2 separate regions of the Homo sapiens genome follow, and region 2 is linked to region 1. Evidence: fine-mapped expression QTL. A gene starts in region 1. The other region holds a variant in brackets. All regions are shown on one strand. Distances are from middle to middle.

What was found. PIP is the estimated chance that this variant, and not a neighbour inherited with it, causes the effect. A credible set is the group of variants that fine-mapping cannot tell apart.
Region 2: its variant is the best candidate, but not a certain one, in a credible set for the expression of SYMPK in caudate (GTEx, PIP 0.60).

What each region holds. Positions count from the first base shown.
Region 1 is chr19:45,861,091-45,865,473 of GRCh38, reverse strand. SYMPK (symplekin scaffold protein) reads left to right here and starts at 2,327. Exons shown (of 27, transcript NM_004819.3): 1 at 2,327-2,416. FOXA3 (forkhead box A3) reads right to left here and starts at 1,148. Exons shown (of 2, transcript NM_004497.3): 1 at 949-1,148. The coding sequence starts at 1,017. RefSeq lists a silencer at 953-1,362 and enhancers at 2,003-2,412, 2,664-3,302.
Region 2 is chr19:45,702,662-45,707,044 of GRCh38, reverse strand. QPCTL (glutaminyl-peptide cyclotransferase like) reads right to left here. Exons shown (of 7, transcript NM_017659.4): 7 at 3,058-4,141. The coding sequence ends at 3,996. Among named protein-coding and RNA genes, the nearest start is that of QPCTL, 12 kb to the right of the region's middle. RefSeq lists an enhancer at 1-115. The variant T/G (reference allele first, on the strand shown) is at 2,493.

The DNA of each region.
Region 1 (4,383 bases):
GTGAGGTAGCTAAGGTGTAGGGGTCGTTGCAGCAAGACGAATGGGGGTCAGACTTGAGGAAGGACTTTCTGTCTGTCCAGGTGAGGGGATTAGAATATGCCGCCACCCCCCACTCCAGGGAAGCCTTGTCTGAGGTGAGACTGGATGGGAATTTTAGCAATAGCTGGAGGTTGCTGGACTGGCGGGGAGCAGGGGAAGGTGCACAATCTAAAACTCTCCATCTTCCGACTTGGGGAGTCCCTGCGGAGGGTCATGGGTAGGGATGGGGGGGTGGAGATCGGCCCCTCTCCTGCCAATGCTGATGGCTACATCTTCTGCTCCCAGATGCCCAACTCTAAGCCACCTGTTATTTCAGACTCCAAAAACGAAGCTTCATCTCTGAGCACCCCCATCTCTGACCCCTGAGCACCAATCCCTATGTCTGACCCTACCTTAGATTACCAGCTGATCCTTAGCCCCGAACCCCGGTTCTTTAACACTGTGTGCTGGCCCTGAGCTCCCACCTCAGTCTTCCCCTTAATGGTGACTCCTCCTCCATCTTTTAGTCTTTCTTTCCCTCCAACTTTGAACCTCACATCCTGAAACCCCCTAGTCTGTCCCCTACCCTGGAACTCTGATTCCTATCTTTGGTTTGTACATATAAATCCCTTGCTTTTTGGGGCTCCAACACCCGGCTCCCAAGTTTAAGGTGTGACCCGACCCTTGGCTAAATTTTCCTGACTTCCATTTTTAAGCCCTGGCCGCGGCGAGGCTGCCCAAACAGCGCTCCCATCCATGCCTCGTCCCCGGTCCCCGACTTCCACACCTGGTCTCCGTGTTCCCAGTTCCTCAGCTGCCCAAGTAGACGCCTTTGCCTCCATTTGAACCCACAACCAGTCCCTGCTCCATGTGAGCCCACACCCCGATACCTGCCCCCAACTTCCCGCTCCGCCATCCCCGAGGACACACCTCGCCCGCCTCCGGGTAGTAGCTCCACTCGGCCAGGTCATGGGCCTCCATCTTCACTGAGCCCAGCATCCCCCGGGCTTACGCCCCCACCCGCCCCCGCTCCGGCCCCGGGGGAACGGAGCGCTCTGGATCTCTCAGCGGGCACGGCCCGAGCTCCCACCGGCGCCCGCCCGTCCGACCGCCCGGGGTACGGCTGTCCCGAGCGCCGCGGGAGGCGGCCACGCTTTATAGCCGGGACACCCCCGCCCTCGCCCGCCCCGGGCTCCCCTCCCGCCTCCCCGAGGGCGGCGCGCTCGGACTGGGGCGCCCCCTGCGGGATCGCCAGGAGACAGACCTCAGGCGCCGGGGGCCGCAGCCCCAGGACGCGACAGCTGGGGGTGATTCAGGAGTGAGGGAGCTGCCCGCAGCGACGCTGCAGATACCAAGGGCCCCGAGGTCAGAACTCTGGAGCCTTTCTACCTCAGGGGGCTTCATCATCTCGGCAGGAGAGGACGAAGAGCCAGAGCCCTGCATGACCGTGGCGGAAGAAAGGGGAATCAGAACGCTAGGGCCACTATGCGACTACAAGGACCCGTAAAAGGTCCCCGAAATCACATCCCCATTGGACAGACAGGAAGACTGAGGCTTCCGACGGCTAGAAATGCTTAACTTGGCCGGGCGCGGTGGCTCACGCCTGTAATTCCAGCACTGCAGGAGGCCGAGGCGGGCGGACGAATCACTTGAGGTCAGGAGTTTGAGACCAGCCTGGCCAACAGGGTGAAACCCCATCTCTATTAAAAATACAACAACTAGCTAGGCGTGATGGTGCGTGCCTGTTATCCCAGCTATTCGGGAGGCTGAGGCAGGAGAATCGTTTGAACCTAGGAAGCGGAGGTTGCAGTGAGCCGAGATCGCGCCACTGCAGTCCAGCCTGGGAGAGAGAGCGGGACTCCGTTTCCAAAAAAAAAGAAAGAAAGAAAAGAAAAGAAAAAGAAATGCTTCAGACTGTTGAAAGGGTCAAGAACAAAGATGGAGGGGATCGGGGCCTCTCCGCAGACCCCACTAGGGCAACAGACCACCTCCCCTCCAAGACCCAGGAGCTTCGCTGCCCGAACTCCGCACTCTCCAAGACCAGCCAGCCGTCCAGGGACTCAGCACCACTGAGAACTCCATTTCCCAGAATGCTCTAGCTCCCTTTCCGCCCGGTGCCTCCGAAGGGACTACATTTCCCAGAAGGCCTAGCCGGACCCAGAGCCGGAAATGAAGGGTCTGCTCGCCGTAGTATGGAGGCGGGCAGAATGCCGCTCGCACGGGACGAGGCATGGGCGGGGTCGGGCTGTGCTCTGGACTCCATTTCCCGGCGGCCCTGGGTGTGTGGCGCGTGCGCACCGTTCCCGGCGACGAACGGAAGATGGCGGCGGCGGCGGCGGCGGAGTGTAGGAAGAGGCACTGCTGAGGGGGCGCGAGGGGAACGGAGGCCAGAGCTGCGGTGAGCGGGAGGCGGCGTTTGGGCCCGGAGACGAAAGGAGGAGGCTCCTAAAGAAGCAGGGGCTCGGGCGGGGAGGGCATCGCCGTGGGGAGAGGGGAACAGTGGCTTTCGCGACCCATGTTTCTTCCCTTGCTCAGGACCCTTCCTTGGCTCCCTAGTGCCCTCGAGGCAAAGTTCCAACGTGGCCCCCCGGGCGCCACCGCCCCGCAGACCTCGCTTGCTTCGACTCGGCCTCTTTGCTTTTTCCCCCACCTCTAACAGCCGCCCTGGCCTTTCGGTTCCTTAAACTTGCCATGCGCTTTCCCGCTTCGGGGATTTTGCACAGGCTGTCCCTTCTGCCTGCAACATCCTTTTACCCATTCGGCTTGGCTAACTCCCATTTCATCCTTCGGGTCTCGGCACCAACGTCACTTCCTCTGCGAAGCCCTCCTTCCCTGCCCTCCATCCAGAAATCCGCCTGTTAAATGCTTTTGTCGGTCCGTGTTCCTTCATGTCACGTGTGGTCTAATTTGTTATCCGACTCTTATCTGTGTGCTGTTTTATGATGTCTATGACCGTGTGTTCCATGAAGGTAGGGACTAGGTTTGTCTCTGTCGCCACTGTGTTCTCAGCACAGCGCCAATCACGCCGGAGACGCCCAGCTAATGTTCGTTGAAGGAATAAAAGATACTCCTAGAGCCAGTTTGGGGAAACAGGGTAGTCATCAGATTCCTAGGTAGCAGTGGGGCAGGGTACCACTTCTTAACGAGTACATCGAGAGGGAAGGGGAAACAGTGATACTGTTCATCATAGCAAAAGGCTACACGCATCCCAAATGTTCTTAAATAAGAAGATTGGCTGAAAGAAACTATAATACATCCACATAAAAAATACTATGCAACTCTAAAAAGGAATGAGGTAGATAAAAGGAAATGATGAAAATCTCTATACACTGATATAGTGGCCTCCAACATATATTAAGGGAAAACAAGTGAAGTGGAGGTTGGTGTTTATTGTATATGCTTTTTCTTTTTTTTTTTTTTTGAGACAGGGTCTCACTCTGTCGCCCAGGCTGGCACGATCCCAGTTCACTGCAACCTCCACCTCCCTGGTTCAAGTGATTCTCCCACCCCAGCCTCTCGAGTAGCTGGGATTACAAACGTGCCCCACCACACCCAGGTAATTTTTATATTTTTAGTAGAGACGGGGTTTCTCTGTGTTGGCCAGGCTGGTCTTGAACTCCTGACCTCAAGTGATCTGCCCACCTCAGCCTTCCAAAGTGCAGGGATTACAGGCCTGAGCCACCAAACTCGGCCTGTGTAGGCTCCTTTTTTTTTTTTTTGAGACAGAGTCTCACTCTGTCACCCAGGCTGGAGTGCAGTGGCGTGATCTCGGCTCACTGCAACCTCTGCCTTCCAGGTTCAAGCAATTCGCCTGCCTCAGCCTCCCAGGTAGCTGGGATTACAGGCACACCACCACGCCTGGCTAATTTTTGTATTTTTAGTAGAGATGGGGTTTCACCATGTTGGTCAGGCTGGTCTTGAACTCCTGACCTCGTGATCCACCTGCCTCCGCCTCCCGAAGTGCTGGGATTACAGGCGTGAGTCACCGCTCCCGGCCCTGTGTATGCTCTTTTTGTAAATGAAAGGGAAATATGTATATATGGGTTTTTTTATTTTCATTTTTTTTCCTTTTTTTGCATAAAATCTAGCTCCTGCAGGAGAATTTTGTGTATGTGTGTTTAAAAAAGAACAAAACAAAACTGAAAGCATAAACCAAAAAGCAGAAGAAGAATGAAACAGGGTAAAATATTTTGGTTGATCTGAATGTATTATCATGAAAAAAGTGGAAATGTTTATTATGGGGTTTTATTTTATTTTATTTTATTTTTTGAGGCAGAGTCTCATTCTGTCGCCCAGGCTGGAGTGCAGTGGTGTTGGGATTACAGGTGTGAGCCACCATGCCCGGCCTGTTTTTTTTATGTTTTG
Region 2 (4,383 bases), 160 kb after region 1:
GGGGTGTATTTGGGGTATTTTTATTTTTATTTTTTTGAGACAGGGTCTCATTCTGTCACCCAGGCCGGAGTGCAGTGACACAATCATAGCTGACTGTAACCTCAAACTCCTGGGCTCGGGAGATCCTCCTGCCTCAGCCTCCCAAGTAGCTGGGACCACAGGCACCATACTAGCTAATTTTAATTTTTTTTGTAGAGACAGGGTCTTTGTTGCCCAGGCTGGTCGGGAACTTCTGGGCTCAAACAGTCCTCCTGCCTCAACCTTCCAAAGGACTGGGATTACAGGGGTGAGTGACCGCACCCAGCCACAGGTACTTTTTGGAAGGGAGATAGGACATGGGGGTTGCGAGCACAGCTGTGAGTGAAAATTTGCACACCATACACAACTCGTTTGCAATTCTCAGTCTCAGCCACCTCACCTGCAAAATGAGAACTGAAATTGTACCTATTTCAGGATTTGTAGTCAGGGAGACTACATAGTTTTGTATATGTAAAAAAAAAAAGTTCTCATGGGCTGGGCACGGTGGCTCACGCCTGTAATCTCAGCACTTTGGGAGGCCAAGGCGGGTGGACACCTGAGGTCAGGAGTTCAAGACCAGCCTGGCCAACATGGCAAAACTCATCTCTACTAAATATGCAAAAATTGGCCAGGCATGGTGGCTCGATGCCTGTAATCTCAGCACTGTGGGAGGCCGAGGCAGGTGGATCACCTGAGGTTAGGAGTTCAAGACCAACCTGATCAACATGGTCCCATCTCTACTAAAAAGTACAAAAATTAGCAGGGCATGGTGGCAGGTGCCTGTATTCCCAGCTACTTGGGAGATTGAGGCAGGAGAATCGCTTGAACCCAGGAGGTGGAGTTTGTAGTGAGCTGAGATCTCGCCATTGTACTCCAGCCTGGGCGACAGAGTAAGACTCTCTCCCCCAAACCAAGAAAATACAAAAATTAGCTGGGCATGGTAGCACATGCCTGTAATCAGCTACTCCAGAGGCTGATGAAGAAGAATCGCTTGAACCCAGGAGGTGGAGGTTGCAGTGAGCCGAGATTGTGCCACTGCAACTCCAGCCTGGGTGACAAGAGCGAAACTCCATCTTAAAAAAAAAAAAAAGTTCTCATGATGCCTGGCACATAGTAGATGCTCAATAAATGTCAGCGAATGTGGAAGAACCTAAATTGAGGACCTATGTTTATCCTCTCATTTGATACCCCGAGTTTCAGCCCTGGAGCTGATTTGGAGGGCAGATGCTCACCTACACAGCGTAGGACTGCTTCCAGGTGCCATCTGTCTCAGGTTTTTCTTTTGAGTCGGTTTGCTGAGCAGCTGTGTATGCACCAAAGTGTCTCCTTAAGGACAGCGTGGGCCAGGCACGGTGGCTCACGCCTGTAATCCCAGCATTTTGGGAGGCCGAGACAGGCGGATCACGAGGTCAGGAGATCGAGACCATCTTGGCTAACACGGTGAAACCCTGTCTCTACTAAAAATACAAACATTAGCCAGGCGTGGTGGCACGCACCTGTAGTCCTAGCTATTTGGGAGACTGAGGCGGGAGAATCGCTCGTACCCGGGAGGCGGAGGTTGCAGTGAGCCAGCATTGCAGCACTGCGCTCCAGCCTGGGTGACAGAGCGAGACTCCGCCTCAAAAAGAAAAACCTCCTGGGCTCAAGTGATCCTCCCACTTCAACCTCTCAAAGTGCTGAGATTGCAGCCATGAGCCACTGCACCCAGTCTGCATTTTTTAATGAGCACCCCAGCTGAGTCTGAAAATTAGGTAGGGTTGGGAAATACTTGCTCATTGGAGTTTGCAGTTACACTGCCATCTCACAGTGCTGTACCAACAGCTGAAGGGGAAAGACAGTGTGCCCTAACTACTCTGCGGTAAATCTAGATCTGTCTTACCCATTCCTCTCATAGATGCTCTCAGACTTTCAAAACCCCATGTTTTCCAAAGTACCTTCTGAGGTATCCTAGTTCTTTTTGTTGTTGTTGTATTTTGTTTGTTTGTTGAGACAGCCTCGCTCTATTGCCCAGGCTGGAGTGCAGTGGCGTGATTTTGGCTCACTGTAGCCTCTGCCACCAGGTTCCAACAATTCTCCTGTTTCAGCCTCCCAAGTAGCTGGGATTACAGGCTCATGCCACCACACCTGGCTAATTTTTGTATTTTTAGTAGAGATGGGGTTTCATCATGTTGTCCAGGCTGCTCTCGAACTCCTGAGCTCAGCTGAACTGCTGGCCTCGGCCTCCCAAAGTGCTGGGATTTCAGGTGTGACCCACCATGCCCGGCCGAAGTATCCTAGTTCTATGAAGTGCTTCCCAATAAAAAGTGTTCCATAGTGAAATACTTTGGGAGCCTCTGGGTTCTGTCTTAAAAATTCACATGATGCAGTGAGGAAACTCATTTTATGTTGTCTCACCCTCTTCTTGGATTTCAGATCCCCCTTGTCATGCAATGTCTATTTACACGAGTTCTACAGAATGGCCTTTTTTGTTGTTG[T/G]TGGTGGTGGTGGTGTTTGTTTTGAGACAGGGTGTCACTGTGTTGCCCAGGCTGGTCTTGAACTCTTGGGTTCATGGGATTCTCTCACCTCAGCCTCCTGAATAGCTGAGACTACAGGGTGTGCACCACCACACCTGGCTTATGCAGGTGGTGTTTTGCAGAAACATTGGTTACGCTTTTTTTTTTCTTTCTTTTTTCTGGAGAATGGGGTCATGCTCTGTTGCCCAGGCTGGTCTCAAACTCCTGAGCTCAAGCTATCCCTCTGCCTCTGACTCCCAAAGAGCTGGGATTACAGGTGTGAACCACCATGCCCAGCCAGAAACAATGGCTTATTACCCACTGGGTCTGGAAGAATCTGGACTTCCAAAATATGAGCTTCTGTCTCCTCTGTGCCTGGTTATGAGGACATCCTCTGTGTGCCCCGTGTGGGAGTTAGGTTAGGACTGGTGCAGTAGCAAGGCTGCTGTTCTGGAGAATGAACTGACACAACACAAACCACAGAGAATTCATCTAGCTGGGTGGCATCACTGGGCCAGACCAGTAATAGTCTTTTAGTCTTTTACTCTTTTTAAAAAATATTTATTTATTTATTTATTTATTGAGATGGAGTCTCGCTCTGTTGCCCAGGCTGGAGTGCAGTGGTGTGATCTTGGCTCACTGCAACCTCCGCCTCCTGCGTACAAGTGATTCTCCTGCCTCAGCCTCCCAAGCAGCTGAGATTACAGGCGCCCACCACCATGCCCAGCTAATTATTGTATTTTTAGTAGAGACAGGGTTTCGCCATGTTGACCAGGCTGGTCTCAAACTCCTGACCTCGGGTGATCCTTCCCCCTCAGCCTCTCAAAGTGTTGGGATTACAGGTGTGAGCCACCACACCCAGCAGTCTTTTACTTTTTCAGTTCGCTGACTTAAAGAACAGCATTTTGCCAGGTGCGGTGGCTCACACCTGTAATCCCAGCACTTTGGGAGGCCGAGGCTGGCGGATTACAAGGTCAGGAGATCGAGACCATCCTGGCTAACACGGTGAAACCCCGTCTCTACTAAAAATACAAAAAATTAGCCAGCGTGGTGGCGGGCACCTGTAGTCCCAGCTACTTGGGAGGCTGAGGCAGGAGAATGGCGTGAACCCAGGAGGCGGAGTTTGCAGTGAGCCGAGATCGCACCACTGCACTCCAGCCTGGGCAACACAGTGAGACTCCGTCTCAAAAAAAAAAAGAACAGTATTTGGTCCCTGCAAACCTTTGGACCAAGTGTTTACCTCTGGGGAGGGAGCAAGTTCTTATTCCTCTGGCTGTCATCCCACAGTGGTCTCTTCCCTGTCCTTGAAGGGTGGCAGCTTGAGACAATCAAAAGAAAGAAGGTCTTCCAATTGTAGCACAATTAGGAGACAAAGGTATGAAAAGGACAAACCAGCACACCCTAGGCAGATCCTGCCTGAGCTTCACTGGCCCCCGCTGGGACCTTCTCTCTCACAGTCCTCTCCACAGTCATTGGCCAAGCACGCTAGAGCCCCAGGTATTCAGCCAGGAACACAGCGAGAATGCGGCACAAGTTGTGTACCGTGGGTGGGTGGAGATTGACCTCGGTGTCCGCAGGGGTGTGCCAGACAGCAGGGAAGGGCGTGGAGATGAGATGGAGCACGGGTACCCCTGAAGTGACAGAGGAGACTTTGTCAGGTCCACTGCAGCCCACCACAACCCAGGAGCCCAAGCCCAACCTCTAGGTAACCTTGCCTTGCCACCACACACTGGTGAAAGATACTATGTTCTGGCACTTTTTTTTTTTTTTTGAGACAGAGTCTCACTCTGTCGCCCAGGCTGGAGTGCAGTGGCGTGATCTCGGCTCACTGCAGCCTCTGCCTCCCAGGTTCCAGCGATTCTACCGTCTTAGC